Linked DNA regions of Homo sapiens. The protein of the gene in region 2 interacts with the protein of the main gene of each other region in a pairwise test. Each region holds a gene or a part of one and is shown on either strand. Other genes may lie near its edges. The genes, in order: NUTM1 and SAMD4A.

Region 1 (3,913 bases), on a different chromosome or scaffold from region 2:
CCTTGGTGAGAGGCTAAGTTTAGAGGCCAAGAGGTAAGCAAAGTTGGAGAGTTCCTCATCCTCTTCCTCTGCTTCCTTTTTCTTTTTCTCCTTTCCTTTGGCCCTGTCTGCTGACCTGTGTGTTTTACTAACAGAAGTTTCTCTCGGAACTATGGCATTCCTGGTTCCCCTTCTAGGCAAAGTGCTTCCAAGGCCCTGGTGAGAAGATGTTGCTTTGGGAGTCCCAGTTGTGTAAGACTCCTGACTCTCTTGTAAAGGAGCAAGGTTTTTAGGCTTGGACAGATCAGGATCCACCCTGCCTTCTCCTTGGGGGTCATAAGAATGAACATTCAGTGGGCAGGTGTCCTCGCTGACCCTTAGTTGGAGGCCACAGTCATCTTTAACATCTAGTATGTTGACAGGTTCTATGGTTTCCAACAGAGGAGAAAAGGAATTGCCTCTGCTCCCTGCCTCTTGACTGGCTTCAGGCAAGGAGGAGGCATCCTCAGTCCCCATGATAAGGAGATTGCCTTGGCATGTGGGTGGAAGGGTTTCTTTGGAAGACCCCAGTGTGGAATCACCACTTTCTAGCAATGGGAAGCAACCTTCTGCCCACAGATCACTGGGATGCCCTACGGTTTCACAGCTCTGTTCTTGATTTTCTTTGGACCTCAAGGGTGGGCTGTTGGCCCTCAAAGGTCCTGGCAAGCTGCAATAGTTTCTCTTTTCTAGGGCAGCTGCCGCAACTGTGCCTCCACAGGGAATCACACTGCTCTCCGTATCCCCAGGTACTAGGGTTTCTCCAGGACCCAGGGAAATGTTGCCCCTGGAGCCCAGTCCCTGGCAGCCTTCCTGATACTCAGTTACACACTTCTCAACTTGGAAGCTCTCTATGACCTCCTCTATTTGTACAGGCAGCTCCAAGCCTACAGCATCCATCTCACTGCTCAGCCAAACTCCTGGGCTGAGACAGACATCGTCCCTCTCCCCAGCTGCTCTAGGGGAAGGATTCTGATCATAACTCTGAGCCATGGGGGTACCTCTGTCATCTCCCCACATGGCTCCTGAAGAGCCTTCCCAGGGCACTGCTAAAGGCTCCTTCCCTTGAGGAAGCACTCCACGACCCCCTGTTTGTTGTCCTTTCTGCAATCCCAGGACTTGCTTTTCTAACCCTTGTCCTTGCAGAGGAGCCAGCTCTGCAAGTCCAGCATCCAAACTGGGAGTGCTCTCAGGCTGGAAGCCTCCCTGCCAACAAAGGGGCAGAGCCTCTGAAGTCCTATCAGCCACCAGGCAGTGCCCAGGAGGCCCAGCGCCTCCTAGATGGCCATCCTGATGTAGAGATACCTGGTTTATAACCTTCCCAGACCCTCTCCTCTCCACACCCAAGGGTCCCGGAGTTCCCTGTGGAGCTGCAAGTTCTGGCTGCAGGTCCCAGCTGCTGGGGGATGGCAGAGTGTTCCCATCCCTGTGCATCCCTCTGGGGCTATCTAGGGCTTGCTCCTGCCCACCATGCACTTCTCTTGCCCGTTTTCCTGAAGAAGAAACCTTTCCAAGGCAAGCGGCGCCCCCAGCCCCCTGAAGCCCAGGTGAGGGCCGAAGCCGCCCATCCCCATCTTCATCCTCAACAGAACCAGAAGGACTTGAGTCCAACTGAGCGCCACTGAAACTTGGAGGCGCCTCTGCATCTTCCTCCTCTTCCAAGGCCATGAGTCGCTTCTGGACCAGCTGAAAGAAATGAACAAATAGTCAGTTCTATACGTGGTTGTGAAAGAGGTGGCTGAGTGGGTGGCACAAGACGGTATTTGGGCAGGGCAAGGAAGGCAAGCAAGTAGTTTAAGCGATGGTAGCAAAGACAGATACTGCAGCTCTTTCCCACCTTCTTGTGCCTTATTCCCATGCTTTGAGCCCTTACATTCTCATTTCCTGTGTTTCCATAGCCCTCTACCTACTCGTTCTGCACCTGAAGCCCAATCCTGAAGCTGTTCATCTCTAGAGCCATATCACCCACGACAGTGTAGGGTTAGATAAAATCTTGCAAGCTTCTCGTTCTCATATTTCCTATACCCCAGTTTTACCTGGGCAAGAGTGAGTCCTTCTTCTTGCTCTAGCTCCTCAATTAAGGCCAAGGGATCTCTCTGTTTTTCTGGGGACAGCAGATCTGCCAGAAATTGAGGGTGAATGACAGCCTCCACCTGGATAACAGAAGGAAAAGCGATGTAAGTCTGTAAGCAGGTAACCTGTGAAACAAGGGGCTTTACAGAAGAAACTAAGAGCTCCCCAACTCTCCCCTCTTACCCCTCCGGTATTGTAAACTGACCACCACCGGCTACACACATTCTCATGATGATGCATGCACACACATTACTCAGTTATAGAATAAAACCTAAGTCCTACTGCATTGGACAAACCCCAGATCATTAGTTCCCGGGAGTACCCACCCCAAGGATCTGCTAGAAACAAGATGTGCAGGCCCAGCTCACCTTGGAGACAAAGACCTTCTGAGAACACAGCTCATTGATGTAGCTCAGGAGACCTGGATCTGGATACATCCCTTCCTCCTCCTGCTGCTGCCCTTCTTCCTCTTGTTTTCCATCTGACTCCCCAGTGGCCAAGTGAGTCCCCACCAGCCATTCCATGATGTCAACATACTCCTTCACAGCTTCTGGTGGGATCTCCTTGGGTGCCTCAGGAGCAGGAGGTCTCTGGGCTTTACGCTGACGCCGGCGGGGGGCCCGTGTCTTGGAGGCTGCCTTCTTCGGAATGTACACTAAGGGAAGAGATGGACAGGAGAATGGGAAGTAGCACAGAAACCACAGATTCTGCCTCCTTCGGAATGTACACTAAGGTAAGAGATGGACAGGAGAATGGGAAGTAGCACAGAAACCACAGCTTCTGCCTCCCAGCTCTGTAAGCTCAGCAATCTGGGTACATTGAAATGGTTCCAGGCTGGATTGGGCCAACCTGAAAAAGCGCCAGCCATGGGAGATTTAGGACCTAGAGGGTCTAAGAATCACTGTATGAGGAATTTTGGAATCCCTGAGATTCCAAGAAACCCCCTAATCCAGTCCCCATTTCTTAGGCAGATGAGGTATTATGTGCTGAATTTAGAGTCTCGGTGAGAGTAGTCAGTTTACTTCACCAAGATCAATACCTAGTTCAGGGCAAAAGGAACCTGAGAACCCAGCCTCCTATGGGGTGGTCTGTTTGGAATATCAAATGCCACTCTCCAGAGGGAAAGTGGCAGAGCCTGGGCTATGCCTTCTCTAATCTGTGACTGGCTTCTGTATGCATCCCTTTGAGCCTTTGGCCCACGGCTCCTGTCAAAATTGGGTAGCCTCACCTGGCTGCTGGCAAACCTCAGAGGCCAGGGGCCCTAGAGGATCAAGTTTCAAAGGGGTTGCAGGAGACAGGCCCTGAGACCCATTCATCAGCTGTGTGTTCTGAATCTGCATCTCCTCAGCCTCAAACTCCATGAACCTGCAGAGGGTGAGAAAGGCATAGGCAATGCTGAGAAGGAGACCAGACCCATCAGAAATCCAGACGACAGCCAAGCATGGCCAAGAAAGGAAGTGCTCTCAGGTGGGCAAAGTCTGCCTAAGTCATGTCACCCAGGAGGGTGGTCACAGGTGGCTTAATCGTATTTCCAGGGAAACTTCAGGAGCTCAGCACATAGTTCCTTCCCCTATAGTCATAACTTAGGAAGCTTAAGAAAATGAATGGCCAGGTGGGGTGGCTCATGCCTATAAACCCAACACTTTGGGAGGCTGAGGTGGGCAGATTGCTTGAGCCCAAGAGTTTGAGACCAACCTGGGTAACACGGCAAAAACCCATCTCTACAAAAGATACCAAAAAAATTAGCCAAGAGTGATGACGCGCGTCTAGTCACAGCTATTGTGGGGCTGAGGTGGGAGGATCGCTTGAGCTCAAGAGGTGA
Region 2 (3,913 bases):
TGAACCTGGGAGGTGGAGCTTGCAGTAAGCCTAGATCGCGCCACTGCACTCCAGCCTGCGTGACAGAGCGAGACTCCATCTCAAAAAAAAAAAAAAGTGAATATTCATGTGCTTATGTATGATGATGAAGTTTCTGAAAGGATATCCCAAAACTTAATAGTGACTATCCCTGGGAATGAGGATGGCAGGGTTTGGGGTTGGGGGAGGGTGGTTTTCCACTTTCCACCATGTTGTTAATTTGAATTGTGTATGCTGAGTGTTAACTGGGGTTACAGCTTCCTTTAACGTAGGTAAAATGTAAAGAAGCAGGGCCATAGCACTGTGGGTCTCTCAGGAAGTAGGGCGATGTGCCGCGTGTTCAGTAGCTGCTCCACTTGGGCTTGGCAGAGCTGTGTCTTCACCCATGGGGAAATCTGTTCTAATCCAACACAGCTAAGGGGTGGGTGGGGGAGAGCGAGGGCCCACCCTGGCCATCAAGCTCCAAGGGAAGCTGTGAGTCATCTCCTCCACCAGATTACTATGAATTTAAGTCTTTTTTTAGGACATGCCTTAAGGTGGGTGGTGGAAGGGTGGGGGTTGTTCTTACTGCAAACTTGGTTTTTTAAAATGGTCTGAAATATTGGACAATAACAGAGAAAAAATTGTTTTCCCCTTCCAAAGGAAAAGTGCTGGCATTGCCACATGTTAAAAAATAATCAAGATGTCTTGTAAGACACCCAATTAAGCATAAATTATTCTACTGGTGGACATTTTCAAGGATATGGAAATAAGGGTCTGCCCCAGAAAAGGCAGAGGGTAGCCCAGGTAGAAAGGGGCGCTCTTACCCAAAGGACCACGCTGTGGAGTCTACCCTCCCCGACAGGCGTGCACCCAGCATGTATGCTTGGATGGTCTGTGGGAAGGCCTAACTTTAGATACTGGTGTCATCCCTCAATTTTTGCACCGCCTACTTATGAGGCATCTACTGTAAGCACTGTGCTACAAAAGCAGGGTATTGAGTAGCTATTAAAAGTGGTCTGTGCTGCAGACTAATGAAGATACAGTCAAGCAAACAGGCAATCACAATCTAGTGTGAACTGGGCTAAGACAAGGAAAGTAAAGGGGGACGTGGGGCAGGTGAAAGGGGGTACCTCACCCAGCCCAGTGGATCAGCAGGCTTCCTGGAGCATGTGAGGACTTGGCTAAGACCTGGAGAAGGAGGCATGACCCAGGTGAAGGGAATGGGGTGAGGAAAAGAGTGTTATAGGCAAGGCTGTCCCATGTGGATGTGCAGGCTGTGCACTGCACAAGTGCATGCCAAGGTGAGTGCTAGCAGTGCTGTGTCCACCCAGACAGGGCACCATCTTGTAATTCACATGAAGGCTTTGTATAAACTAGTAGGGGCCTAGGTTCTAGGCAGAGGGGGAGGTGTGCACAAAGGCTCAGAAGCCAGGAAAATATGCAAACTTTTGAGAACTCAAAGATACAAAGTCTGGAGTGTAGAATGGAGGTGGTAAGGGCTGTAGAGGTAACAAGGAGGCGCCAGATGACACGTGACTCTTTAGGTTTGGATTTTGTCACCTCACAGCGGAGAGAACCATCACATGAAACTTAACCTTGTTCTATCTTGAGCTGATAAGAAGGCACAGTGGTAACCACGTGCATGATGGAGAGACTGCAGGGTTCAAATTCCAGCCCTGCCATCAGCTGTGTAAGCTCAGGTGGGCTAATTAGCCTGTGTGCCTCAGTTTCCTCCTCTGTAAAATGGGATAACTTGGGAATTAAGTAAGCTCTATAGGTAAAGCACGGAGAACTGTGTCTGCTATAGAGGAAAAGCTAAATAAGCACAAGCTATTCGTACTAGAGCATTTCACATGGCAGGCCAGCCGTGAAGAGAGAATATAAACGCAGACACGGGAGAATGAGAACAAAACAGTTCCATGCTGGGAATTCTCCAAACCATGGCCACATCTGAGAACACTTTCAGTGGTGAGGAGAGAGGCCACTGCCAAGGCTGGCATTTTTCTGCACAGGGAGATCTTTGGGCTCTGGCTAAAGGCGTCTGTGCCCCTTCAGTTTGTCACTCATTTTCTGCCGCTTTTGCTTTGGAGAGAGGGTGAGATGCTGAGTGAACGGTTTGTTCCCAAAATCATCTTTTTCGAAGTCCTTCCCACCTTCCTCCTGCAAGGGTCCACTGGCCCAATGAGCACTGTAATAAAAGGGCTGGCATCCCCTAGTCTGAGGGAGTTGGGAGAGAAAGGAGCCAGGATTAAGGAGTAGGTCTCCTGGGGTCACAGTGATTGCAGTTCAAACCCAAAAGGCTTAACCTCTCTGAACTGCACTTTCCCTATCTGTAAGATGAAGCTAATGATGTCTACTTGGACAGGGAATTTATCCAGCACCCAGGGGAAGCCCCCAGGAGCCTGTCGCTCTGGTTAGTGGTATCCAGAAGAAAAAAGAAATGGGCGAATGAGGCTCTACCTTTCCCCATGACGCGTGTGAACTGCCCGGGGAGGTCCCCCTCTGGCAGGGGGGCGACGGCCAGCTCCCCATCGCAGCTGCTCAGCTGGTGCGGCTGGAGCCCCCCGCTGGCCCCGGCCGAGGGGGTGGCCGTGGCGCCAGTGGCTGCGGCCCCATCTTTGCAGTCGGGGCTCTGGCTCTCGGGGCCCATCAGTGAGGGCTGACGCGGGGCCTGGGGCTCCCGGCGGCGAGCCTCGGGGGTGGTGCTCGGGGAGCTGTAGGCCTTGATCGGAGTCAGGATCATCTGGTGCAGTTCCTGGAGCGGGATGCGCAGGCTGCCCCCCTCGATGATGTCCTGGACGGTGAGAGCAGGAAGACCTCTGTTAGGCTCAGGAATAAGGGTCATCCACCCCCGTACCTGCCCTCCCCTGCCCTGAGCTCTTACAGGATTCGTGGCTGCTGGTACCCTCATCAGGACGTTTTTGGGAAAAGGGACCACTTTCGTTTCATCATTCTAATATTGGCCCAGGAAGAACACTTGGAAAATACAGACAGGTATAGCGAGGAAAATACACACCACCGGAAAATCCCACTATCTAGAGATGACCACGAAAACAATTTGGTATATTTCCTTTTCTGCCTTCCTCTGTGCATTTCTGTAAAATGCAGTTATACATATTACAGTCACATGCTTTAGGAGCTGTACAACAAAGTTGGGTGACATGATGGCTTTGTGTCCTGTGTATGTTCTGGATGAAATAGCTTGTTCACACCATCACTCAGTCCATGGCACACGCAGCACAGGGTAGCGATTAAGAGCAGAGACTCTGGGTCAGAGGCTGGGGTTTGGATTCTTGCACTCCCATGTGAACCTGGGCAAATGGCTTAACCAATTTGTGCCTCAGTTTCTCTGTGTACAAAATGAGCATATCGTGGCTGCCTCATTGCCTTTAGGGTTCCCCAAGGAGTTGACATCCAGCCATGAGATAACTATATCATGCCAGGGGCTGTGGTACGGGTCGGGGCTGCTATGAGGGGAAGCTCCTGGAGAGGGTGACATGGGGCAGGGACCCAAATGAGCGTGGGCATGAGGATCCTGGGGAGAAACGCTCCAGGTGGAGGGCACAGCAAGGGCAAAGGCTCTGAGGGGGGAGTCTGAGGAACAGCAAGGAGGCCTGCGATGGAGCAGGTGGGCAATGGTGTCCCGTCAGACACCTAGGCCTGAGCCTGGAGGCCTTGGGCCAGGGCAGGGATGCTGAAATCTAGTCTAAGATGGGAAACCAGGGAAGGTTTTGAGCAAGGGAGTGACAAGTTTTACAAGGATCATTCTGGAGAGGAATATGTATAGAACTGTAATATAATATATATGTCTTTATGTGTTGTATAATAAAATTGGATCATTCTGCACATATAGTTTGATATACTGGGCACTACTTATTAAAAAAAGAAATAAAAGTTGATTCTGATAGATATT

What was found.
Region 1: the proteins of SAMD4A (region 2) and NUTM1 interact in binary tests that used the Homo sapiens proteins (3 or more experiments, as listed by UniProt).

The regions. Positions count from the first base shown.
Region 1 is NC_000015.10:34,353,279-34,357,191, reverse strand, and holds part of NUTM1 (NUT family member 1), read right to left. Parts: intron 3,457-3,913; coding exon 3,320-3,456; intron 2,747-3,319; coding exon 2,460-2,746; intron 2,172-2,459; coding exon 2,055-2,171; intron 1,705-2,054; coding exon 1-1,704. UniProt on the Homo sapiens protein: Plays a role in the regulation of proliferation. Regulates TERT expression by modulating SP1 binding to TERT promoter binding sites.
Region 2 is NC_000014.9:54,759,042-54,762,954, reverse strand, and holds part of SAMD4A (protein Smaug homolog 1), read right to left. Parts: intron 2,795-3,913; coding exon 2,461-2,794; intron 1-2,460. UniProt on the Homo sapiens protein: Acts as a translational repressor of SRE-containing messengers.